Linked DNA regions of Homo sapiens. The protein of the gene in region 5 purifies or fractionates together with the protein of the main gene of each other region. This does not show direct contact. Each region holds a gene or a part of one and is shown on either strand. Other genes may lie near its edges. The genes, in order: DENND6A, ARFGEF2, SLC30A9, MTFP1, VSIG4, HEATR6 and KIDINS220.

What was found.
Region 1: the proteins of VSIG4 (region 5) and DENND6A purify together in Homo sapiens (affinity purification with mass spectrometry; 3 studies listed by BioGRID and IntAct, with this or other methods). This does not show direct contact.
Region 2: the proteins of VSIG4 (region 5) and ARFGEF2 purify together in Homo sapiens (co-immunoprecipitation; 2 studies listed by BioGRID and IntAct, with this or other methods). This does not show direct contact.
Region 3: the proteins of VSIG4 (region 5) and SLC30A9 purify together in Homo sapiens (affinity purification with mass spectrometry; 3 studies listed by BioGRID and IntAct, with this or other methods). This does not show direct contact.
Region 4: the proteins of VSIG4 (region 5) and MTFP1 purify together in Homo sapiens (affinity purification with mass spectrometry; 3 studies listed by BioGRID and IntAct, with this or other methods). This does not show direct contact.
Region 6: the proteins of VSIG4 (region 5) and HEATR6 purify together in Homo sapiens (co-immunoprecipitation; 2 studies listed by BioGRID and IntAct, with this or other methods). This does not show direct contact.
Region 7: the proteins of VSIG4 (region 5) and KIDINS220 purify together in Homo sapiens (affinity purification with mass spectrometry; 3 studies listed by BioGRID and IntAct, with this or other methods). This does not show direct contact.

The regions. Positions count from the first base shown.
Region 1 is NC_000003.12:57,683,078-57,686,577, reverse strand, and holds part of DENND6A (protein DENND6A), read left to right. Parts: intron 1-3,500.
Region 2 is NC_000020.11:48,920,559-48,924,510, reverse strand, and holds the start of ARFGEF2 (brefeldin A-inhibited guanine nucleotide-exchange protein 2), read right to left. Parts: upstream 2,801-3,952; 5' UTR 2,622-2,800; coding exon 2,501-2,621; intron 1-2,500. UniProt on the Homo sapiens protein: Promotes guanine-nucleotide exchange on ARF1 and ARF3 and to a lower extent on ARF5 and ARF6. Promotes the activation of ARF1/ARF5/ARF6 through replacement of GDP with GTP. Involved in the regulation of Golgi vesicular transport.
Region 3 is NC_000004.12:42,063,530-42,067,029, reverse strand, and holds part of SLC30A9 (proton-coupled zinc antiporter SLC30A9, mitochondrial), read right to left. Parts: intron 1,721-3,500; coding exon 1,681-1,720; intron 546-1,680; coding exon of another isoform or gene 496-545; exon of another isoform or gene 481-495; coding exon 409-480; intron 1-408. UniProt on the Homo sapiens protein: Mitochondrial proton-coupled zinc ion antiporter mediating the export of zinc from the mitochondria and involved in zinc homeostasis, zinc mobilization as well as mitochondrial morphology and health.
Region 4 is NC_000022.11:30,424,496-30,428,567, reverse strand, and holds the start of MTFP1 (mitochondrial fission process protein 1), read right to left. Parts: upstream 2,801-4,072; 5' UTR 2,689-2,800; coding exon 2,622-2,688; intron 1,852-2,621; coding exon 1,724-1,851; intron 1,398-1,723; coding exon 1,165-1,397; intron 107-1,164; coding exon 34-106; coding exon of another isoform or gene 1-33. UniProt on the Homo sapiens protein: Involved in the mitochondrial division probably by regulating membrane fission. Loss-of-function induces the release of cytochrome c, which activates the caspase cascade and leads to apoptosis.
Region 5 is NC_000023.11:66,037,281-66,041,576, forward strand, and holds the start of VSIG4 (V-set and immunoglobulin domain-containing protein 4 isoform 1 precursor), read right to left. Parts: upstream 2,801-4,296; 5' UTR 2,719-2,800; coding exon 2,664-2,718; intron 1-2,663. UniProt on the Homo sapiens protein: Phagocytic receptor, strong negative regulator of T-cell proliferation and IL2 production. Potent inhibitor of the alternative complement pathway convertases.
Region 6 is NC_000017.11:60,044,422-60,047,921, forward strand, and holds part of HEATR6 (HEAT repeat-containing protein 6), read right to left. Parts: intron 2,985-3,500; coding exon 2,888-2,984; intron 1,809-2,887; coding exon 1,604-1,808; intron 1-1,603. UniProt on the Homo sapiens protein: Amplification-dependent oncogene.
Region 7 is NC_000002.12:8,831,114-8,834,613, reverse strand, and holds part of KIDINS220 (kinase D-interacting substrate of 220 kDa), read left to right. Parts: intron 1-3,500. UniProt on the Homo sapiens protein: Promotes a prolonged MAP-kinase signaling by neurotrophins through activation of a Rap1-dependent mechanism. Provides a docking site for the CRKL-C3G complex, resulting in Rap1-dependent sustained ERK activation.

The DNA.
Region 1 (3,500 bases), on a different chromosome or scaffold from region 5:
CACAGAGACACAAAGTGAACACATTGTTGGAAAAATGATGCTGATAGACTTGCTTAATGTAGGCTTGCCACAAACCTGTAATTTGTAGAAACTGGTAACTGCAAAGCACAATAAAATGATGCACAATAAAACAAGGTATGCCTATATTAATAAAAGGAGAAGGAAGAATGGTATTGGAAGGCAACAAGCATTTACTGCCTTACCTGAGAGCAGTTATAATCTTATGTAATCAAAGATTTATTTTGAAAGATTTCTAAGCTTGGGTTTTATGATATAAACTTTAGTAACTTTGAGCTGTTTGAGAGCCAAGGGTATATGTGCCTGAAAATTCTACACCATTATGTAACTTTGAAATAAAGGATTATGTTCTGTTTTACCTGGGATATGGAAATATCTGTTAATGCTTATTGAAAATGAGGCTAAACATTTATATCTTGGTAAATTTAGGCTATTTTTGTATTATTGGGATTCTATTTATTTTGTTCTTCTTATCATAAGAATCATCTGGGGCATTTGTTACATATGAGGATTCTGGGGCTCACCCATCTGCTTAATCAGAATCAGTTCCAGAGGATCATTATGTGTAGGCATGTTTGGAGTATGTTTTTTAATTTTCTCTTTATATAAACTTTTCTGTTTTTCTTGTAAACCAGCTGTTGTCAAAATGTGGTCTGAGGACTTCTGGGCATCTCTGAGACCGTTTCAGGGGATTTATAGGATGTTTTCAAACTATGTATGGCTTTTCTTCATGTTCTTCAACCAGAACAACATATTGCAATAGAATGAACATAGAATGATTCTGCCAAGAGCAAACATTAAAGAAAAACAAATTTTTTTTTAAAAAAAAAGAATGAATGCTGAAGCAGATATGAGAATCTAGTTATTTCTGTTAAATCAGACATTAAAGATATTTGCAAACATGTAAACAATGCCATCTTAGTAAGGTTTTTGTTTTGTTTAGGAATACAGGTTGTGTGTTCCTAATCTAAACATTCAAAATCTGAGACGCTCCAAAACCTGAAACTTTCTGAGTACTGACATGATGCTTTTTAAAGGAAATGCTCATTGGAGCATTTTGGATTTCAGGTTTTTGGATTTGGGATGTCCAACTGAGTAAGTATAATTCAAATATTCTAGAATCTGAAAAGATCTGAGATCCAAAACACTTCTGATCCCACCAAGCATTTTGGATAAGGAATACTCAACCTGAATATAGTTACTTTTCATAAAAATTGAATATGTTAATGAGTAATAGGTTATTATTTTAAAATAAATAAACAATTTTTTTTAATGATACTTTTAGTTTCTACAGTGGTGAATGTTGATAGATATAACTCATATAAACAAGAATTCTAGGCTGGACGTGGTGGCTCACGCCTGTAATCCCAGCACTTTGGGAGGCAGAGGCAGGCAGATCTGCTGAGGTCAGGAGTTCGAGACTAGCTTGGCCAACGTGGTGAAACCCATCTCTACTAAAAATACAAAAAAAAAAAAAAATTAGCCAGGCATGGTGGCGCATACCTGTAATCCCAGCTACTCTGGAGGCTGAGGCAGGAGGATCACTTGAACCAGGGAGGCGGAGGTTGCAGTGAGCCGAGACTGTGCCATTGCACTCCAGGTGTGTGCCACCATGCCTGATTAAATTGTTTTATTTTTGTGTTGCCCAGTGTGATCTTGAACTCCTGGACTCAAGGGAACCTCCTGCCTCCACCTCCCAAAGTGTTGAGATCCCAGGCATGAGCCATTGTACCCAGCCTCATTTATTCCTTTCCGTCACTAATTATTAAGTAATATTTGGACTTTATTTATTTATTTGAGACAGGGTCATGCTGTGTCACCAGGCTACAGTGCACTGCAGCCTGGACCTCCCAGGCTCAAGCAATTCTCTCACCTCAGCCTGTCAAGTAGCTGGACTACAGGTGTGTACCAACATGCCTGGCTACTTTTTTGTTTTTTTGTAGAAACAGGGTTTTGCTGTGTTGCCCAGACTGGTCTTGAACTCCTGGCCTCAAGTGATCTGCCTGCCTCAGCCTCCCACAGTCCACCTGCCTTAGCCTTCCAAAGTGCTGGGATTATAGGCATGAGCCACCATGCCTGGCTTTAGACTCTTTTCTTGAAACAGAGTCTCGCTTTGTCACCCAGGCTAGAGTGCAGTGGCACGATCTCAGCTCACCGCAACCTCTGATTCCCAAGTTCCAGCGATTCTCCTGCCTCAGCCTCCTAAGTAGCTGGGATTACAGGCACGTGCCACCGCACCCAGCTAATTTTTGTATTTTTAGTAGAGACGACGGGGTTTCACCATGTTGGTCAGGCCGGTCTCAAACTCCTGACCTCGTGATCTGCCCACCTTGGCCTCCCAAGGTGCTGGGATTACAGGCATGGGCCACCGTGCCTGGCCCATAAACTCTTTTTTTTTTTTTTTTTTTGAGACGGAGTCTCACTCTGTCACCCAGGCTGGAGTGCAGTGGCACAATCTTGGCTCGCTGCAACCTCCACCTTCTGGGTTCAAGCAATTCTCTGCCTCAGCCTCCTGAGTAGCTGGGATTACAGGTGCCCACCACCACACCGGGCTAATTTTTGTATTTTTAGTAGAGATGGGGTTTCACCATCTTGGCTAGACTGGTCTTGAACTCCTGACCTTGTGATCCACCCGCTGCGGCCTCCCAAAGTGCTGAAATTACAGGCATGAGCTAAACACTTTTTAAATAAGGGAACTGGAACTTAAAGAGGTAACTTGCCCCATATCACTTGCTTAATAAGCCAGGATTTGAACCCTGGTCCTTTTGATTCTGAAGCCTAATTTCCCCCCACTATACTGTGTTGTTTACTATTTAGGGAAACTGAAGCAAAGAAGATGTGAAATGCTAGCGGTAGCTTGAACTAAAATTCTTAAATTCTTGGTAGTAATAGTTTACCTCATTTCTCAAAGTGTTCCTGTTTACATGCTAATACTCAGTGTAATAATAGTACCCAGGGCTATTTTCTGAGTTGTATGAACTGCTTTTAGCATTTTTGTGATCCTTTAGTTGGCAAAATGCTTTACCGTCCTGTGGAATGCACAGTAGATACTTGCTTCTGTTTGGACAAAAGACCAGCGTGACCTATGTCAATGACATAAAGTTGGATTTCCTGAAGGTAGGGTTTCTAACTGATAATAGTTTATAGCCATGGGCAGATGAAGTGAGATGATAATAGTTCTCATTTCTAGTGTATTGTGAGGATTAATTGATACAATACAGTGCCTGGCACAAGGAAAACACTTGATAAAGTTAGCAATTGTAATTATTTATTGAGTTTTTCTGAAATAATGAAATAATTACTCTTTTGGTCTAGTTTATTTGAATTCTATCTGTATTACTCATTTAGTGAATTCCTACCTAACCTTAAGCGTCCTTTGTAAGTAATACAGGATCAGTATGAGGGTAGCATCATTAAATTTTTGTTGGTACCTATTATAATAGGAGCACTGGGACCATTTGCATAGGCCATAATAAGTACCT
Region 2 (3,952 bases), on a different chromosome or scaffold from region 5:
AGACAGAGTCTTGTTTTGTCGCCCAGGCTGGAGTGCAGTGGCGCAATCTCAGCTCACTGCAAGCTCCACCTCCTGGGTTCACGCCATTCTCCTGCCTCAGCCTCCCGAGTAGGTGGGACTACAGGTGCCCGCCACAGCGCCCAGCTAATTTTTTTTGTTATTTTTAGTAGAGGCGGGGTTTCACCGTGTTAGCCAGGATGGTTTCGATCTCCTGACCTCGTGATCTGCCTGCCTCAGCCTCCTAAAGTGCTGGGATTACAGGCGTGAGCCACCGCACCTGGCCCCAAATTTCTCTTCTTAAATGGGACTACTGGACACAAGACTGGGCCTTGAGAGACAGAGAGAAATATCACCAGGCATTCTGCTATGTGTTCTACTCTAAGTAAAAGCAGTCATTTCTATTTAACAGCAATGACACACAATTATTCTCTTAAAAAAGATGGTCACTTAACAATATGCATACGTTCCCTTATGACAGTTCCTATTATGCCATTGGCACAACCCCAATTTGTGATTCATATAACCTGTAGTCAAATTACTTCCTATCTAGGCCATTTTTTACAATTCACTACTAAAAACTGAAAACATGCATTCCACTACTTGTGTTAGGAAAACTTGAACTTCTGAACAAAGATACGATCCGAAAATATCTATTAAATTCTCAGCGTTAATGGCCCTTCATGACCCAGATGAAAATTTTATAAGTAGGTTCCAATAATATGATGCACACTTTGGTGAAAATTTTATGTTAAGAAGTTTTCTGAAGAAAAAATAAAAACTCTTCTGCCAAATAACTATTCTGAAACCTCCACAACAATATCGAGAAGATAGAGTCCAGGCAGATTTCAACGTGGAGTTATAAATACCAGGCTCTTGCCTAACAAACTGCTTTGCAGTGCTTATCCCACATTGCTGATAAAATACCCAACAGCCTTGGTTATTGGAAGAGAAAAGCTTTAAAAATCTACATCTCAGTAAATTCCTTCCACTGATCCTGAATTTCACGGACTAGCAACTGTTTCCAGATTATCTAGACTACCACCTCTGCATCAATAGTTGGCCCCTGAGGGAGTCTCAGGGCCCTCTGAAAATCTGATGAAAGCCAGGGACCTTCTTTCCAGGGAAGTGCAAAGTTCACCAGCCTATTTCTAAATGCCAAAAGAACACTACTCTATACTTTGTAGCAAATGAAAGGAGAAAGGTGATAACAATCTCAAACTATGTGACTAAAAATCAAACTTTCCATTTGCTCATTTTGTTAGGAAAAACAGGCCTTTACAGATTCCAAACCAAAGACGTTGGGGCAGTGAATTAGCTTGAAAACAGCTCTGGTCAAATGCATGGATTCTCCCACCAAGAACTCTCTTCTGAAACTCCATATGGTGGATAGTTCTTGCCTTTCAGTATTCAGCTCAAGTGTCACCCTCTTGGAAAAGATTACTTTCCTGACCACCTGATTACTTTTCCTCTTGGAAAAGATTACTTTCCTGACCATGGAAAGCAGTCCTCAAGCCCTCTTTATCACATCTTGCTGTTTTATTTTCAAAATAGTATTTATCAGTATTCCAAAATACCTCACCTATTTTCTTAATTAATTATTTTGTCTCCTCTATTCGAGTATAAGCTCCATAGGGGTAAGGACCATGTCCGTCTTGTTCCCCACTGAATTCTCAGTACCTGGTATGCAGTGGGCACTTGATAAATATTTGTTAAATGATTAAAACTGAAAGATAGGATAGTGATTTTGCTATCAATTATCAAGCCTTTAACTATTAGTTAGAATTCTCCCTCTTTCCATAATCTGAGGGTCCATTCAATCAGCAAATATTTATCGAGCACCTACTGTGCGCCAGGCACTGTTGCAAGCGCAAGGGATACAGCAATGAATAAGTCAGACAAGTATCTTCGCGCTGAAGACCTTGTATTTTAGTGGACTGCTAGGAATAAGCAGATGTCTTGCTCACTACAATGCCTGGGAGATCCAGAACACCTTCTACAATCCTTCCTTGAGGGAAAGAGCTATGGGAGATCCCCAAACCAAAGGAAAACATTCTCCAACGGGCACTTCCAAAACAAGAATCAGGGGTTTCCCTAAACCAGTTGGACGGCTCTTCCTACATGCTCTGTTCACCTAGGGGAACCCCAATCAGCAGAGCTCAGGTAACGAAAAAACTTGGGGCAAGGGCTACTGTTTCTAGGACTTGGAGGTGGTGAGGGGAGGAACCAGGAAACAGGGCGACAAGGAATCGTGGCAAAAGCCCTGAGCTGGAACCCTGAGGAACAAGCTCTGGTTGTCACCAACTTGCTAGGTGACCTTGGGCCAGTCCCGAGCTGCCCGGGCAACACTTCCTCCGGGGGTATAATGAGGAGGAGGCCGGAAGGGTGGAATTCGGGATCGGGGGGAAGCGGAGGCCAGGAGGCCGGGCCAAGGCCGAGTAGGATAGGGCAACGGCCGACGTGCTGAGGCCAGCGCGGGGCAGGGCGGGAGCGGCTCACCCACCGAGCGCCACCTGGCAGGCCCTGCGCAGCTGGGAGTGCTGGGGCCGCTTCACCTCCTTGTCGGCTAGGATCTTCTCCAGGGCCCGGGACACGAACATGCTCTTGGTCTGGCTCTCCTGCATGGCCCCGGCCCGGCGGGGGCTGACGGCCCCGCGGGCGGGCGGCGTGAGCGAGATGGCGAGCTAGGCTGCGGGCCCGGCGTCCCGGCCGGCACCGGCCGCGTCCGTCCGCGCCGCCCCGTCAGGAAGCGACACCTCGGCCCCACGGCGCCGCCATGTTGGAGCGCGTCACGTGACCACGTGACTGGCGAGGCCGCTACGGCCGCCTAGCGTCCGTCGGCCCCGTGACCCCCAGCGGGGCGGAGCCTAAGGCTGGGGGCGGAGCGGAGTCAGGTGGGCGAGAGACAGAAGGCGAGGGTGGAGGGTGGAAGAAGAGAAGGTGGGGAGGGGAGTGGGCATGGGCGAAGGGTATAGGGGACGCGGGGGCTAAAGAAAGGCGAAAGCGGGGAGAGGTGGTGATGGAGATGAGAGGAGAGAAGCGCAAGGTAACGGGAGGTGAAGGGGAGCACGAGAATGGAGATGACGTGGGTAAGAGAGGAGATGAGGAAAGGAAGGGGAACGAGAGGATTGGCAAAAAAGAACGGTGACAAGGAGAGATGATAAAGGGGCAGGAGGAGAAGGCGAGTAGGAAAGAAAAGAGGTGAGGGAGCGAGGACTGGAAGCTGGTGAATGAATGAGAAGTGATCGGGAGTAAGGGGCGTCAGGAGGAAGGAGGAAGGGCGATGAGAAGGCGGCGGCGGAGGGGAAGGGGGGAGGCCCGGCGCGGCGGCTCACGCCTCTAATCCCAGCGCTTCCGGAGGCCAAGGCGGGAGCATCGCTTGAGCCCAGGAGTTCGAGACCAGCCTGGGCAACATAGGGAGACCCTTTCTCTACAAAATAAAAAGTAAAACAGCCGGGCCTGGTGGCGCTGCTTGTGGTCCCAGCTACTGGGGAGGCTGAGGTGGGAGGATCGCTTGAGCCTCGGAGGTTGAGGCCGCAGTGAGCTGTGATGGCACCACTGCACTCCAGCCTGGGCCACAGAAGGAGACCCTGTCTCAAAAAACAAACAAACAAAAAGGAGGTGAGTTAGTTATGGAGGAGATGAGGTGGTGTGGGAAGAGGTGAGAGGGAGGCACAGAGGTAAAAGAAAAAGGAGAAAGACAGGAGGGAGAGGGGAAGTGAAAAGGAAAGAGAGGTAGAAATGAGAGGAGGGGAAAGAGTAGGAGAAAGGGTGAAGGGAGAGGAGGTAGGAAGGGGAGCTGTCAGGAAGAACAGAAAAGAAAGAAAAAGATGAGAGTAACAAGTTAGGAAAACAGGAAAGAGATGGAAAAAGGAATGGTGTAGGAAGGAGGTGAAGGGGAAGGAGGTGAGGAAGAGTGGAAAGAACATGCTGGGAGAATAGGAAATGGAAGGGG
Region 3 (3,500 bases), on a different chromosome or scaffold from region 5:
TATCAGGTAACATTTTAATAAGTATCCATTTAAAATCAAGATATAAGTTAAGATAAAAAAGTGTATGAGAGATTATGATTTTAAAAACCTTGCTCAATGCAAACATAATTTCTTGGCTTAAATGTCAACAATAACTGATACATAAAGTCAAATTACTTTCTCAAGTTATATAACCATATAAAGAAATACCTTAGTTCACTTAAGTCAAATCCAAATATAAAGTATCCATGTTCAAATTTCTATACTACATTTCTTTTTAATAAGGGCTGAAGGATATGTAAGAGCCACACAGGGATGATATTCAGATATATTTTGTACATTTCTATTAGGAACAAAGCAATAACAGTACTAAGTAATTTTAAGCAAATAAGGGAGGTGAAACAAACACTTGGTTTCTAAAATACATACCATACTTGTAAAATGACATTCCTTTAGCCCGAGCATTCCTACGAAGTTCATTTACAGCAACAAGAAGTGTTGCTAAAAGAAAAGCATTCATATCAGCAAGACAGAAACTTCATGCCTCCAAACTTTAAAGATGGCATCTCAAAAGATAAACAAATAAGCACAACATTTTAAAACTAGGGTTGGCAATAAGGACAAGTTCTATGTTAATTAGTTGTTATCAATTAATCATTATAATAAAATGAACCCCATAGTTCTAAACCATAATAATTAAATATAATTACTAATAACAACAGCTTTAGTTTATTGAAGAGCTGCTATTTGGCAGCACCACACTAACCACATTCATTTCTGAGCCTCCCAATCTTTTGAAGCAGGTTGTGTTATAACCATTTCATAGACTTTCAAAGATGAGGGGCCCCATAAACATATACAATTAGGATCTGTCAATAAAAAATGTTAATTTTAAAAATAGATGAAGGGAACATTATACATAGAAAGTTACAATGTTTCAGAAGTAAACATGAGCACAGCAGTGAATCAGGCAGTTTTATACTGATATTAGCAGTTCTCTGTCATCATACTGCTATAGCTGTGTATTTCAAAAACTTTGAAATATTTGTCTCACAAGAGCCAGTAAATAATATTCTTCTGGTGAATATTATTAAACTCTAATTTTAAAAGTTCAGTTTAATTATGTTTTTTATACTCCATTTCAAATGTTTTGAGTATTATGGTATGATACTCAAAAATGAAACATACTTTCCCTTTTAAATAAGTAAAATAATTATTTATCCAATTTTTAGTGAATCGGCAAGTAACAGCGATAGTAGTGGTGGTGGGTTCAATCAAGGAATAATGCTTGCAAAGTGAAAACTGTAAGGAACACCTCTTACCACCACATAGTTTAAAAATAACCACAAATATGGTGGGCTTGCTAAGCGCTTTCATGCCACATCAGTTACTGTCTTCCATCTATCTGATAGTCACCTACTTGAGCCTATCCTAGCAGCTCAGGACACAAAGAGAAATGAGGCCTTGCCAGGATGCCATCCCATGGCAGGGCGCAGTTACACACCCCCCCACAGCTATCCATTACAGAACAACCACAGTACATTATGCAAAGACTTTACTCCCTAAAAGTAGAGAAAGCTTAGATGCCTATTCCCACACTTGCTTTTCTTTAATCAACAGAACTTAGCAAACTATAATAATGGACAGCTGAATATATATTACTAAATTAAGAATAGAGACATACTTTGTGACAGTACATACCTCCTTCAGATACTAATGATCCTGCTAAAATACAATATGCCTAGAAAAGAAATATTAAAATAAAGCATAAATTAAGTACTTCCAATCACAATTGTTCATATATAAAGTCCGTAATGTCTAAAACAAAAACACGAATTCAAATTTAAGCCAGACAGTAAGGTTACTAATGGGAAACAACTCAAATGAGGAGGACAATGAGATATGAATACAATATTTGATATCAGGAGTGGTAGACACCAGATACAGTAAGATCCACACCCAAACTCAAGTAACTTCTGGATTTTGCTTCCATGCCTAATACCAAGAAAATCCTGATTCAGAAAGATAAGTAGTTACAAACAGTAACCAATGTTTGTTTTTTGGTAATACCACATTCCCTGCAATCCCAGGACACTCTTCAATTAAAGATGGTAAAAAAAGCTTTAGACAGGGGTGTATCAAAAAAAAAAAGTTAACCTAGCAACACATTTTTTTTATTTTAATGAAATTCAAACCAAACATCTACAGAATTTTCAACAATGTTTAGAACCCTAGGCTTTCCTAAAATAGAGGTCTGAAAACTTTGAACCTAGTCCAACACTATTTTAAAAAGGGCCATAGTCTAATGGAAACCCATTTAGTTACTGAAAGACACAAGAGCTTTTAGAAGTTTTAAAACTTATACACAACTGAAAATTTAACTAATTACCTAATCTCTAACTACAGAGAGTGCTTTGCCCCTATAAAGTGACACTATACAAATTAGAAGAACGCTAGAACAATGAAGTACCCATAAAGTGGCCAAATCTTTTCAGAATGGAGGAAACACATTTGTTTGTTTTAATTATATGAAATGTATTATGGTAAGAAACTAGTCAATCAAAACTATAGAAAACTAGAGAATAACAAATAAGCCTAGTTTAATGTGCTTGTTATTAAGTAGATTTGCATGATATAACAGGATATTAAAAAAGTAGACAGATTGATTCTGTCTAGTTCTGACTACAACTCAAAATAGAGAAGAAAATAGGTACAAGTATCCCCACATTCCAAAAGGAGGTGTTATACCATCTATTCAGGCCTTGCACAGAAGGTAGCCCAAACCTGGGGCCTCTACCCACTAGACTACATGCTAGCTCCACATCCTCTAGACCACATAAGAAGAGCTGAAATTGAGGAGGCCAAAAATGAAGATTTCTTTGGTGAAAGCTGTTGAGCTACTAAGATTGTTCAGTAGCCTTGATGTGTGTCCCCCGGGATATTGGATATCACAGCAAACTGTCTGATGCATACCTGAGTGATACATCCATACGCAAGCCTACTAACTGATATTGGCTGTATCAGCAGAGTAGATCATTGGGCTTGAGAGAAAAACCTGCACTCCCACAGAAAGTGTGTTAAAGATGTCTGTTTTAACACACAGGTCCCTAGGAGTCTTTTATAAGGAGATCAGCTGCTCAAAGGGCATTCTTTCCAAATGCAAGACAACTTCAGCACTGTCTGGAAACCACACCATGAGATGCAGAAGCTGAGAGGGTAGGCTATGTGATCAATTTGGGCAGCCATAGCCAGAGCAGCCAAGCAGGGTAATCTCCAAGAAGTGCCCATGAGAAAAAAAAAGACAGTTTTAAACATCTACAAAGGCCAGAGGAAACCAATGCAAAATAACACTGTAGTCAGTAAAGTGGTATGTTTTTATCCCTTATCCAAACCCTCAACACTTTCCAGGGAATAGGAGAGAGGGGCAGAAGCCCCAGAGGGGATCATACGGGTGATCATCCTGCTATCCTCCCATTCCCCCAGTGCAGGCTTCCTACCTGAAGGAAGCCCAGGATGCGGGA
Region 4 (4,072 bases), on a different chromosome or scaffold from region 5:
AGGCCGATGCACAGGCCAGGTACCAGAGTATGATCAGGAGGAGCTGGGCTTCCCCACTGTTGGGTAGAGCTTGCGCAGGCTGGAGTCCAGGAGGAAATCCACCGACCTGTAGGGAGTGGAAGGGTGGTGAGCAGGTGACCAAGGGTGTTCATGAGGGAACAGAAGGCAGAAGGCCAGGGTTAGGGAAAGGGGCGCTTAGATGCAGGATACAAATGCCATCCAGCCAGAGACCCACCCTTATCCTGATCCTTCCACCTTGGGCTACCTGGGGAAGCTAGAATCAAACTCCCAGAATAGAAGCCATCCTCTTCTTTATTCAGGAGGAAACTGAGGTACTGGGTAAAAGACTTGCTCAGGGCCTCAGGGTCAGCTATCTTCTCCTGGAGAAAGACTGCTCCTCTCACTCTTACATTGGTCTGGTTGGGTTGAGCCCATATCTAGTTCTAAGACCAAGCACGTGACCCAAGCCTGGCCAATCAGCAAAGGGAAACTGGCTCATAGGGTGGGCATGCAGTCCAGAATGGACCAATGACACCCTTCCTTGGGATTTTTGTTGTTACTGTTTAAAAGCTTCTGCTGGGGGAGGCTAAGCTGGTGGGATAGAACTTGGGAGCTGCTAGGGCCATTTCTACTCCCACAAGGAGAAAGCAGGTGAAGCCAGCAAGAAATAGGGTGGGGTGGGGAGAAAGGCAGCAGGATGGGGAGACCCAGACCCCTAATGACATAATTTGGGTACCTAGATCTAGCCATGCCTGAATGCAACACAGCCCTGGACTTTTACTCCATTTTATTCAAATATTCAGTTTGAGTTAGGCTTCTGTCACCAATACCTCCCAAAATGCATCCCCTCTAGGGTGCACCTGCTCCTGCTTCTCTCTGGTTGTTTTGTAACACTAGACTTTCTTTCTGGGAATTTACTTGTCCTGTGTCCCATACCCTCAACGCACCCCTCTTCTTTTATTGCTAAAGTGCCTGCCATACCATATGACAAGGGTACAGGCTGTCCTTTCTAACCCAGGAGCCAAGTGCCAGCCTTGTCCCTGCTATTGCTCCAGCAAAGTGGGCATACCCCACACTTCACAGAGTCTAGCTCTACCTGGAGACTGGATGATCCACTCTCATCACTGGAGAGTGGATGATCCCTGAGGCCAAGAAGGTACCCACCTGTCAATGGGGTGGATAATGATGGGGATGGTCAACAGCCCAAGCGCGGTGGTGGTCCACTTGCGGACAGCCAGGGGCCAGCGGGTGGCAGTGCCCAGGACATAGAGAGAGGCAGCACACACGCGGTTGATGGTGAAGCCCGGAATGGCCACAGAGGCTAGAGCCTGCCATACAAAGGTGTCCACCACAGCCACAGTCACCCTGGCGCTGCGGCCTGCTTCAGGGCTGGGCACCTGGTGGGCGCAGAGACACTTAATCCAGCTGGGGCAGAGGCAGAAAATCCTGCGACAAGGGGCACGAGGCTAGACCGGGAGGGGCAAGTGGCCAGTGGACTTGTCCGCACCCAGGAGTGGGGTACAGTCTGCCACATCCAGTTCGGGGAGTGGGAGTGTGGGGGCAGGGGTACACTGTCCTACAAACAGGACTGTCTATGGACTGCACTAGGCAAGGTTGTAGGGACTGGAGTGTCCCACAGGGACTTTATCACATGCAAGGCTGTGGACTGAACCACACAAGAAGAGAGCTAGGGTTGGGGGTTGGAAAATAGGCTAACACTCACCTCTCCAGCCTTCTTGCCTTTGTCAATGGCATCCGCCAGCACGTAGGAGCTGGCCACGCCATAGCTCAGCCACACCACCGCCGCTGGCACAAGAGAGCGGAAAGCCTCGCCCACCTCATTGGCATAGCCTGGGGGAGGGAACATTTAATTCCTAGGCTCGCAACTGTTCCACGAGGGGGCGTTGGAGCAGGCTGGTTCTCATCCTAGCCAGCTAAGCAGTCCCTGGGTGACCTTAGGCAAGTGACTTGACCTCTCTGAGCCTCCCTTTCCGAGATGTAAACTGGTGCCATGATGCCCACCTCGGACTCGGGCCACTGAGGGCGGACTGAGCACTGAGTCACTGTTACCATTGCTTATTGGTTAGATTTCCTGGTCTTGGTCCCAGGAGTAACTGCACTAATGAGGTGACAGGCACCCAGAGGGGCAGAGTGATCGAGGGCAGCGCCACTGACCAGACGCTCGCCAAGTGCCAGGGCTTTCTGCGCTTTATCCCATTCCACCCTCGCAACCACCACCCAATGAGAGAGGCCCTCGTGTGTATCTCGTTTGTTTTTTGTTTTGTTTTTGTTTTTTTGCCGAGGAGGAAACTGAGGTTCAGACAGAGCCAGTGCGTGTCAGGACCGAAATGGGAGTGGAGATCCCGACTCCACAGCCAGCCAGAGCGCATGCCAGAGCGGGCAGCCCGCTCACCCCATGGGAGCTTCCGCCCTGGGCGACCCACCAGGGTAGTGTGACCTTGGGCAAGTCCCTAGCCCTGTCTGAGCCCAGTCTCCGGCCCAAAAGCAGAATGAGAACTAAGATCATCCCGCCTCCTCCAGGCCCCGGGCGGGCGTCCGGCGACCCCTGCTTCTCCAGCCCAGTGGTGGTGGGGTCGCCGCGCCCGTCGCCCCGCGCTCACCCAGGTATCGCACCCACGTGTCCCGGTAGAGATCGCGCTCTGCGCCCCGCGGCTGCGGCTCTGACATGACTCTCCCGCCACGGCCCCGGCCACTACAGCCGGTACTGGCTCCACTGCAGTCTCCGCCGCCGGCACTTGGGTCTGCCCGGCCGGGACCCGCCGAAAGTCCCGCGCCGAAGGACAGGTCAGGAAATCTCCGCCAGCAGGGAGCGTCTGCAAATTCCCCCCGCGCACCGAAGCCCCTCTCCCAGGCTCGGGTTTTACAGACTGGTTTTCGTCACGTTTTCTCTGAGCTGTTGGCGCTAATCGCTCCCAGGACTGAGTGTAGGTTTTGGAGCCAAAGAGACAGGGGATCAAGTTGGGGGATGCTACACTGCAAAGCTTGTGACCTCGGGCTTATCCAGCATCTCTTTATTCATTTGTAAAAACGAGGGAGGGACACAGGCTGGGCCCGTTGGCTCACGCCTGTGATCCCAGCACTTTGGGAGGCCGGAGGCGGGAAGATCTCTTGAGCCCAAGGGTTCGAGAACAGCCTGGACAACATAGCGAGACCTCGTCTCTACTAAAAAAAAAAAAAAAAAATTAATGTAATAAATAAAATGGGGAACACAATAGTGTCCACTCCCTAGGATGGTTCCGAGGATTAATTATAACAGTCACCATTTATTGAGTTTATTGCCAGTCTACATGTTCGCTAAAGGACTCTCCATGTCTTACACCTGAAACCCTCCCACCAGCCTGGGAGCCCGTTTTACAGGTGAGAAAATGGAGGCACAGAGAAGGTGGGTCATTTTCCCAGAACACACAGCTGCTAAGTGGTGAAGTTGTGATTTGAATCCAAACAGTGTGGATCCAGATCCCGTGCTCTTAATGCGAGCTCTAAATGAGGCTAGAGGAGTGAACGGTGAGCCCCTGGGAGGTAGGTGCCTGGACTCTGGAGTCCCTTCTCAGCAGTCGCCATGTATAACTAGGAAGCACTCGCATTTAACTGGATCAGTATGTCCCCAGACTGAGCTTCTTGGGGACAGGATGTTGGATGAATTAATTAACGAATGAATGAATCGGGCAAGGGAGACAGAGTTGGGGTTAGTGATTACAACAGGAGGAAGCCTTCCCCCGCTGGACCTCAGTTCACCCAGGTGAGCAATGTGTGCACTTCACTAAGTCTCTGTGACTCCTTGGCGGGTATAATTGAGCGGCGTTGGAGACAATCCTGGGTTCAAATCCTAGCTGTGCCGCCTACTGGCTGTTAGCCTCCCTGAGCCCCAGTTCCCACGTCTGCAAAAAAAATGAGAGTAGCCAACATTGACGAGCACTTACTTATACCAAGCTCTTAAGCGCTTTGCACGGCTTATTTCCTTTAATCTTTGCAACAACCCAAAGTGTAATAGTAAGCACAGGGTTTTTGCGTGATACCCGGTAGGCCTTATTAAGAATTAGCTCTTATTTTC
Region 5 (4,296 bases):
ATATATAATATATATTATATAATAATATAATATATAATATATATTATATAATAATATAATATAATATATAATATATATTATATAATAATATAATATAATATATAATATATATTATGTAATAATATTAATATATAATATATATCATATAATAATATAATATATAATATAATTATATAATAATATAATATATATAATAATTATATAATACAATATATAATATATATTATATAATAATAATATAATATAATATATTCATAATATATTATATTATATTATATATTTATATACTTATTATATTATATTACTTCCTTTATTATTACTTCCACTTTACTGATAATTACTTATATATAATATATAATAATTATATAATTATTACTGATAATTACTTATATATAATATATAACATTATATTATATTATACTTATTACTGATAAGTATATATACTTATTACTAAGTATATAAACTTATTACTGATACGTATATATACTTATTGCTGATAAGTATATATACTTATTGCTGATAAGTATATATACAGTATTGAGCTTAATGTGGTCCTGAGACCCAGCCTTATAAAAGCAAATGTCTGATGCCTGTGTAATGGCACTGAAGAAAAGAAAGGTTGAATTTACTAGGTGTGTGCTCCTTTATAAGACCCATTCTAGGTCTCTTTCTGAATCCCCTTCCTCCCATCATCACAAAGAGGTTGACATTTTCCATATCTCTATCCCATTCCCCCACATGACTGGCTTCTCTCCCTTTCCTGGAATGCCTCCTGGATGGAGGATTAACTTATATAATAGATGTTTATAAAATGTTTCTGAAATGTTTAAAATGTATATAAAATGTGAATATTAGAAATTTTTTAAATTTTGATTATCTTGACATATCTCTTAGCCCCACAGGAAGAGGCTAGCAGCTTACTCTGGCCGCTACAGGGTTTTTAGCAGTGAAGCTGCAGTCCCACAGAGTTGTCCAGCTGAGAAACCCCTTTAAGACCAGTCAAGTCAACCTCCTCACTGTACAGATGGGCTAGGAACAATGAGGTCCAGGGAGAGGGAAGGTATTATTTGCAGCTCAGCATAACCTGAGCCTGAGGTCTATAGTATAAGATCCTGTGTACAAATGGAAGGCCTGCTTCCAGGTCTGGAAAAGCTCATAGGCTGGGGAAGGAACAAGACACATGAGTGCTCTCTCTCTCTCTCACACACACACACACACACACACACATGAATGCACACACACATACACACACACAAACAAAGGATTTAAATTTAACATTTCTAAAATGCTCCCTCAAGCCCCAGGCTTAAGCCCTAGCTCAAACCAACAGACTTGGAGAAGGTAGAGAGATACATTATAAAACCTGCTAGAGAATGGAAATGTGGTAGTTATAGAAAGAAAAATGTTTTTTCAGGAGCATTAACTCTGCCACTAATGCTCTTTGGCTTGGGGGCAAATTATTTTTTCTCTTGGTTGACTTAATTCAGAGTCTTTTCTAACTCTGAGGTTCCAGAGTGTGATGGGTCACAGAGCCCCAGGATAGGGTAACCTAATCAGAGTCAGCTACGGAAAGCTGGATTCTTTCTGACCTAACAAGTGACACCAAGCTAACACCTATCCAGCCTTTTTCTCTAGGGATGATAGGGAAGCAGCAAAATCCCCCTTTACCCTATATTGGATCTCACTTAGCTGTTACCCAGGTTGAGTTTCCTGAAAATCCATCTCACTTCTCAGGAGTGTAGATGAGGATAGAGCTTCCCAAGCTCCAAGGAAATAATGCCACTATGGAATAGTCCATCCTCCTTTGGGATTTGTATCCAGCCCATAAATAGCCCAGACAAATTGAGCCATGTCTATAGGGAAGTGAGTTATCCCAGGAATGGGTAAGAAACCAAGTCCTATGAAGACCAGTTGAAAAAGCTGGGGCTGTTCAGCTTGGAGGAGAGAAGAGTCAAGGAGACATAGTACTTGTCCTCAGGGCTTTGAAGGGCTATCACAGGGCAAGGAAGCATCTATGTTCTGTGTAGCCCCAAGAAGCAAAGCTGGGGTTTTTGGATGGAAGTCAGAGGGAACTGGATTTAGTTCAACACAAATAAGAACTTTCTAACAGTTGGAGCTGCTCCTGGATGGACTAGATGGTCTGGGGAGGTAGTGAACAGTGAAATCTCAATCACTACTGGATGTTTCTGAGCACTTATTCATGACAATGAAGGGTGGTATAGGTTACTTCTATAGTCCTATCCAACTCTTAGAAAACACTCCTTCTTCGGGGGCTGTATATTTTAACAGAGACCAAAGCTTGGAAGCAGAGTGGTTAAGTCCAATTGTAGAATTTTAGATGAGAGACAGCAGATGGAGGAAAGATTCGGATGTCATTGGGAACCTTCTTGATGCCCCTGAGATACAAGCCCTAGAAAATAATGCAGATGTTTTCCAAGAGAAAAATCCTTTTTCAATTTCTGCCCAAACTTGCCTTCTGGCTTCTTCAGCAGCCTTCAACTACATCCATCCGTTTTGCTCAAGGCTGAGAGAGCCTGCAGAGTTTGGCTGAGAAGACTCACCTGCCCAGTAGGAATAGGCTTTCCATAGTAGACATTAAACACCAACCCTCTAGCCTTTTGCCTAAGCCAGCAATGGCAGCCAGGCCCCCCTTTCTGCCTTACCATAAGTGTCCACTGTTAGGTGCCCCAGGAGTAGCAGGCCCAGTAAGATCCCCATCACAGCCAGAGCTACTTCTGTCCTTTCTTCCAGCCTCCTGCTACCAAAGAGGCTCAAACTTCTGGTGGCCGCCAGCGTCTGTGACTGCTTACTTCCCTTCCTTCCCTATATCTCTCACTCAAACTCCTAGTCCCATCACACATTCCCCTTCCTTCCCTATTTCAGTACAGGTCATGTGGGGTGCCCCCCTTCCCCCACCTCCTTGGGGTTGGAGGTTCCAGGATGAGTGAAGCAATTCTTCCCCCTGCTAGGGTATTGACTTGACTTTCCTTGGAGCCAATGGGGCTTTCTGGTCTTTGATCTCCTAGGCTGTATTTATTTTGAGTCTCCTCCACAAGATTCAGAGGTTGTGGGGGCGACCTTTGGGATGAGTCTTCCCACTCCAGTATGGCGGTGTTTTCCTTTGTGGTGAGCCCAGGGAGAAGAGATCAACTTTGCTGACCTACCCAATTTTCATTAGTTGTACTGTTAACCCTTGCCTGTGCAGCCTATGCAACTGGACAGGGTGTTGGGCCCGGGGTGCTTTTGGGCTTAAGAGTACAAGAGTTTAGTGTATTAAAGGGCTTTCTACACATCAAAGCTTGAATAATTGACAAGCCAATGGATAAGGCTGTTATGGGTGAATATGCCTCATATCTCATATTGGGGAAGCTCTTTGAATCACTTTCTACAATGGCTCCACCTCTCTGATGGTAAGGGAGAATTCATTTTCATTAATGTTCTCCATGCTTTTTCATAAGGAATTTATTTTTTACTTCTTTTAAGGGAAATTTAAGCCTAGCCTCCAGTGCAGCAGCCCATTAGTGGTATGCTGTATTAGGTTGAATTTTTCATTGACTTCCAATTGGTACAGGCCCTTGACCTACAAGAGAGTAATATTATGCCTCCTAGCAAAGCTCAACTGCTCCAGAAATTGCTCCTCTTCACAGGCCCCAGAGTGACTGTAATTTCATCAGCAGTCTAACTAGGTTTGGCACTGCGCTTTGTCTACTAAGCTTTGAAACAATAAGCACTTTCAAAAGCACAAATACATCCCAAAAATTCATACTGCACTGTAAGTAACAGCTAAGCTTAGTTTACTCTTTGATTGGAGGGATAGGAAAGGACTTGGTCAGGGGAGGGAGGAGTTTGTGCAGAGATGGGGAGTGGGAATATAAAGAAACATACTTGCCAAGGGGTGGCTGCATGCAGATGATTTGGAGCTGTGCACGGGCTAAGGAGACATTCCAGCATTTCAGGACACATTATTACATGGAATTCTATCAATCACCTCTGCCTCTAGGGCCCAATCCCCCTTGGCTGGTTGTTCCTTGTTTTTTGAGTACTGCACTCATTCCATCTCACTGGAAATTTCAGCCATTTTTTCCCACCGGGTCCTCACTCAGGAAACCCTGAACTTCACAGAACCCTCCTTTGATATTTTTCAACCAACACCCTATCACCACTACACCACCACCACCGCACAGACACACACACACACACACACACACACACGCACACACATACACACACACACACCCCTCCCCTTCCCCGCTAAAAAGCCCACTGGACAGATGTAAATTTCTGCCTGGCCAGGTG
Region 6 (3,500 bases), on a different chromosome or scaffold from region 5:
TCTTCTCTGGGAGGATTCTGTCCCGTTGGGGTATGGCTTTGTGGGCAGAGCGTGGACTGAACTGCAACCCCACCTATCCTCTCAGCTGGGCACTTCTGAGCTGTGTGCAAGCCACACACTGCATGCTCACCTGCAACAGCATCCAGACACTGCTCTGGCCATAGCCAGTCATGCATTTTATTGCAAAGAAAAAGAAAACTTACAATTTCAAGAATAAGATGCCCAGATTTCTATCTTTTCTCCACACCTGTAGGCCCTAGGAAATCAGCCTGCTTTCCTCCTTACCAGAGCTACTGCTACCCACTCCACTTTGGGGTGTCCTTACTCAAGATGGGTGACAGAGTAGAATGCAGCTTCTCTTAACTCTCCCAGCCCTTCCTGGCTTCTCTGTTGCCTCTGAAGACCGGCAAGCAGGCCCTTTCCATTTGGTGGATGCCAGTGCCATTGACAATGGGCCACTGCTAGAGCTATGAGACACTCACAATCCGACCCGTCAGAGTCCTTTATCAGTTTCTAGCTCCCTTTTCTTATGTGGCTCTTGATAGCTCTGCTACTGGATGCTTTCTAGTTCTCAAACTTCCTGCCTCTTTGGAGCTTCCCTTTCCCTCCAAGTCATGCAGGTAAACTTCTCTCTCTAGTAGGCTGAGGGCAAGGGCCATACAGGAAGGCTGGTAGGAGCCAACCACCACTGAGGTGCCCTGGTTTCAAGGACTTCTTGGCTCTCCAGAAGGCGGATAACCACCTCAATGGGCTCCAACCCAAAAGGTCACCCTTAGGTGACTTCCTCAATGGAAGAAGCCGGGAAGCTACCTTACATACTCCCAGCTGACTGGTCTGCCTGGACGCTCTGGGCAATAAAGGGGAGCAGAGCCAGACTCCCCTCACTTGATGTGTGCTCTCCTCTCCAGGAACACATCCTTAGGTCTCAGATCTGAGAGAGAGAGATGCAATAAAGCGAACGCTGGCATTCAAAGTGAGCGAGGTTTGGAGGCTCCGATCCATACACCTAAGCAGCTACTGGTCCTGAATGACATATCAAGGTGCATGGCATGCCACTACTTAGAGACAGATGCCCTCCTTACATTTATTAATGGCATCCACTTCTGTACACAGCTCATAGGGGATTTCCAGTTTATATTCCCTCTCATTCCAGTTTTTTTCCTTCCTGTTTTCTTGACCATTAAAGTAATATATGCTTATTGTAGACAACTGAGAAAATGAAAACAGAAAAAATCCTACCCATCCAGAGGCAATCACTGTTAATAATTAGTCCAATTTCCTTTCAGTCTTTTTTCTACCCATCTATTGAGATCATTCTGTAGAAATTATTTAATACCTGCTTTCATTTGTTTAACATCAGAAGTATTTTTCCAGATTATCAAATTCTTGTAAGTAATTTTAAATGGCAACAAAATATCCCATTATATATCCCATTGTATAGGTAATGATGTATTTCAATGTCCCCCTAAACTTGTCTTCAGTATGTCTCCATTTTTTCCTAATACTATGACAAATAACATGTGACAAACATCTTTAACAACAACGTAGATTGGTGTGTGTCCCAAGAGGCTTTCCACCAGGGAGTGAAGGGAAACTTTCTTACCTAAAGGAAGGGCAGGATTTTTAAATACATTTCCCATTGCATAACAAGCATTCCATCGGACTTTCATGGCAGCTTCTGTTAGAACAGTAGAAATTAGGGCCTGGATAGACTCCTCAATGATTTCTGCAAATGTGGGTTTTTCTATATGAGAGGGTTGCAGAAAATGAAGCAAATTTCCAAGGGCCCGGACTGCATTGCTTTTTACCTAGAAAAAATGTAAATGCTTTAGAAATCTGTTTGGCCAAAGAGATGTTTCCAAAAGTCTAATTTCAGCTTTAAAAAAACCCAGGAGGTCTTCAACTTCTTAAAGCAAGTCCTTGGAACTCACAAGGTCTGCTCTGGTTAACATCCTGAGCCATCAGAAATGTGAGGTTCTACAGAACTCCTCTCTCTGATTATTTATTTATTTATTTTATTTAGTGCTAGACAGGACCTCAGAGAGGTCCATCTTCCTTGTTTTACTGAGATGGAGTATAAGGACCGGGAACAACAGGACAAGGCTGATTGATAGCAAGACAATGAGGAGAAGCTAGGTTCCATAATTCCAGTCCAATACTTTTCTACTAGACTAGAGTCTCAACCTCTGCAGCCCATCAGAATCATTTGGGGAGGTTTCTCCTTTTGTTTTAAAACCGATTCGGAGGCCCTAACCTCAGAATTTCTGATTGAATTACTCTGAGGTAGGGCTTCCTGGGTGATTACCAGATTTTCAGAAGTAGTATTAAAGTGAGCACATGGTATGGGTCAGGTACTGTGCTAGGTGCTTTAACATAAGGCATCTTCATATCCAGTGAGGTATATAACTTCCATGTTACATGTGAGGAGCTGACCTTCAGAGAAGTTATGTAATATACCAAACTTACCCAGTTACTAAAGGGCGAGCCAGGGCTTGAATCCATGTATGTCTGACCTAAAGCCCAGACATGTGCTTTTTAAACTTATTAGTTTAACAGGTAATATTCAAAGCCAAGAGCTACTCATCTTTCTGACTTGTCAATTTTTTTTTTTTGGAAAATAAAAAAAAGTTAATTTTAAAAGGAATCTGAATATGTCATGTAGTATTACAATGGGCACTGATATTTTTCAGGAGGCAGGAGACAGTAAAGAAACCATACACGTGTGGAATGGGCCATTTATACCCTGAGCACACCCTCAGTCTCTTTTGAACAGGAGTACATTTGGTGGGACAGTCTGAGGAACATCAAGCCACACTGAACTACCACACTGCAGCTACAATACATTAACTATCTGTTTGGGAGATACTGGGTTTTGTTGTGAGTCTACCTTGTCTTTATCCTTGGATGCTTCTATAGCTGATCGTAACATTTTCAAGAGCAGGAGACCAGAGAACTCTTCCTGGAAACTTGGGTCTGGTGTTTCCCTGTTCCACCCAAAGCAGACAACACATGTTAAAAGGTAAATACACTTAAATATATACATATAGAAATATATTCAATTAGTATAAGCCTAAAAGTTTAGGAAAACAGTTTAACAAATCTGCTTAGATTATATCAAGAAACTTACATTATATATCTTTTGACCCAATAGTTCCCCACATAGGAATGTCTCAAAAAAAAAAAAATCTCAAAATGCAGATTTCATGCACAAAAATATTCCCTGAATATAAAAGCCTACAAGCCTAAAGACTAAAACAAATGTTCAGTAATAGAAAAATGGTTAATCATCACACAGTGATAATTATGTAATCATAAATAAGGATTTCTAACAAGTCAATAATAGAATGCTTACACATTTTACATGTTGCTTATACGCTGAAGTGACAAAAAGCAGGACACGTGCACATGAATAACCAGCTACCTCTGGGGAGGGGAACTAAGGTGTCAGGGTAGAAGAAAGGCTTCACACTGAATGCTGCTTTGTACTATCTGGATTTTTT
Region 7 (3,500 bases), on a different chromosome or scaffold from region 5:
TAGTCTTTATTCTCATTGAGCTACATTTGTTTGGCTAGGGGAAGCAGACCAAAAACAAAGTATGTGGTATGTGGAGTGATGCTAGGTGTTATAAAGAAGACCTTTAAAGTAGGGCTGTGGAAGGGGGATATAGTAGAGGGGGAGAGGGCTGTTTTATACACGTATAAATGGTATACACCATTTATACACGGTGGTCAGAGAAGCTCTGATCAGGTGACGTATGTACAGAAAGTCACTGTGGCCTGAGTAGAGTCAAGGAGAAGGAGCAGCAAGAGTTGAGCTTAGGGAGGTGGAGAAGGGGTGGAATAGATCAAGCAAGGCCTTGGCCCTGGTAGGGATCTGGGATTTTGAGTGAGAGGACAACCGTTGGGATGTTTTGAGCACAGAATGGTTGTAAGAAGACACGATTCAGGAGGACCACTTAGGCCTCTGTGTGGAGGGGGCAAGCGCTGCCACCCAGGCCCAGGAATGTCAGCACCAGGGTAGGCTCTGGGGACTGCACAGGGGTGATTGTTGCTGGAGACTTAAGTGGGAGGAGGAGAAGAGGGGCTGGAGATAGAGAACCATGGGAGGGGCCACATTCAGGAACTTACTGTGTCGTATCTGGAGGATAAGAAATAAGTAAGCCTTGGGCAGCATGGCACTATTGTTGCTTTCATGCACTGTGTCTGTAACCGGAGAAAAGTTATAGGGTGCGTCTATTAACCGATTGGCCTTTTGGTGAAAGCATTTTGAATACATTTAGAGATTTTGCCTATTAAATTGGCAAGTTCTAAAAATGGACTTACTACAACATAAATTTTTTGTTCTGACATTGCTGTTGGCTACATCTGCCATTTTCAAAACGGGTGGCAAGACATTAATTTTTTTGCTAATTGTGCAAAAGAATGTATAGCCTTATATTCCCATTAGAGAGAAAGTGCTGTGGACATTAGATTCAACTGATGTCCATTTATTCAAGAAATATAGTGTCTTGTATGGGCCAGCTATTAAGCTAAGTGTTGGGTATTTGGTATAGAACGAAAGAAAATAATTCATTCCTTTTAAAAGCTTATATCCTAGTGGGAGAGACAGCTATTAATCAGGTAAATATGTCCCATTCCAGCAGGTGTAGCTAAAAAAAAAAAAAAAAAAGACAAATTTAAAAAACATAAATATGTAAATTACAAGTTTAGTAAAGTGTTATGAAGGAATAAAAAAGATTCCATAATAGAGAACAATCCAGGTTATGAGAATCAACCAAGAAAGGGTGGTTAAGAAATGATCATATTCTGTTATTATGTAAAACAGCTAATATTTATTGGCTTCATATGGGTTAGGTATTATTTTAATCCCATTGCATGTAATTGTGCAGTTATTTGAAGATGGGGAAACTCAGACACTGAGGTGAAGAAACTACCCCAGGGGACAGGGAGTGATAAAGAGAGGCTGGTTAATAAGTACAGACATACAGTTAGGTAGAAGGAGTAAGCTGTAGTGTTCAGCAGCATGGTACTATGCTTAACAGTTTATTGTGTATTTTATTTTTTATGGTATATTTTAAAGTAGCTAGAAGATAAGATTTGAGATGTTCCCAGCACCAAGAAATGAGAAAAGTTTGAGGTGATGGATATCCTAAATACTCTGATTTGATCATCACACATCCTATGCATGTAATCCAAATATTACACATACCCCATAAACATGTACAATTATTATGTATTAGTTAAAAAAATTAAGGAAAAAAAAAAGAAACTAGCCTGGGATGATATAATGGTCAGTAGTAAAGTCAGGAGTCAAACCAAGGTAGTCTGGCTCTAGGGTCCATACTTTTGACCACTAGACAGCTTCGTTTTAAGCCGAAAGGGCTTTTGGAAGTGAACGTTGAACTGAAATGTGAAAGATGAGAAGCTGTAGTTTTCCTCCTGTGATGAAACATTTTTTTTTCTATTGAAAATGAACGTAGACTTAATACATCAAGTAAAACAATATAGCACAAAGACGCGTGAAGGCAAAGCTAATCATCTCCTCCTTTTAGTCCTACATGGTAAGATAACGAATTTTACAGCCAGGTGTGTGTCCTTCCACACTTTTCTTTTTGTTCATGTGTACACACTGGATAGATACATATATGGGGGTCTTATTTATTTTATCAAGTAGAATTATACTACACACGTGCTCTTAAACATGACAGCGTGTCATTGGTTTTACTATTGTGTGTATCAACAGATGTGGATTTAATGTTCTAATTTTATTTTGTAATTTCTAGGCACTTATATATGTGCTTACAAACATCTTATGACATTTAATAATCAATTATTCAGTGAAATTTATTAAACACTGTCAGTGCCCTCTAGTCAAAGACTGCCAGGAACATACCTCTAGTTGAACAAAGTTGGTCTTATTAACTCCCTGCAATGAAGGAGAATGCCTGTCCTAGGGAACGTTGGGGGTCTCTGTAACAGGTTGTTAGAAAGGACTTAGAAGATTCGAGATGATGTTAGGTGATTCGGGGAAGAGTTCAAGGAAGCAAAGCTTTGCTCAGTCTCGGGTGCTTCAGGAATAAGGAGGAGTGGGAATTCTGCAATTGGATATTTAAAATCTTAACGAAAAGGCAAGAGGTATGGAGTAAGGCTAAAGCTGTAATTGATAAAGAAGCAGCAATGCTTCATATTAGCCACGATAGGAAGATGTTTGGGCATTTTGTGGTTTGGGTGATGTTCATGTTTTTGTCTATGTTCAGATATGATTCCAGAGTAGTCTTATTTTTGTCTTCATATCCTGGTGACAGAGTGACCTTGTTTGATGTTGGCATTCTTTGAAATTGTTGCATTTATGTTAGAACACCAAGTCTGGCTGTGTGTGCCGGGTCAGTTCCCGACAGTCAGGGGCTGCTTTTCTCTCTCACCTCCTGTTGTGTAGGCATTGTGCTAGATATAAAGCAGATCCTGCTGCAAGAACTTCTAGTCTAAGGGAGATGTGGAGAGAGTGAGTAAAATGGAGAGGAGAGTTGAGTGTGATGTGAGCAGTCTACAACTAGATGTATACACAGGTGTGGAGGAGCCCAGGGCCTGGCCCAGCTTGGGGTAAGCAGCCAGTCAATGAAGGCTTCCAGAAGATCTGTTAGAGCCATGTTCTTAAGGATGGGTAGGAGCTGTTCAGGCATATATACGTGGAGAATGGACTTTCTAAGCAGAGGGGGCATTAAGTGCAAAGGTCTGGAAAGAACAAAGTGTGGGGCAGTGAAGGAGCTGCAAGTAGATCAGTCTGGCTGGAGCTGGAGGTGTAGATGTGACTATGTAGAGGGTGGGAGGGATGGGGCTGAGGAGGGGAGAAAGATAAGGCTGGAATGGTAAGATGGGGCCAGATTGTGAAGAATCTGCATGCCCTCATCATAATCAAGAATTGAACTTACTGAGTTTTCACTCTGCTCAGTGGAGAGCAAAGCTTTCCGTAGGAATTGTGTATTTGCATCTTTACAATGGCTTTAAAAGCCTTAGAAGGCGTAAGTTCCTTGAATA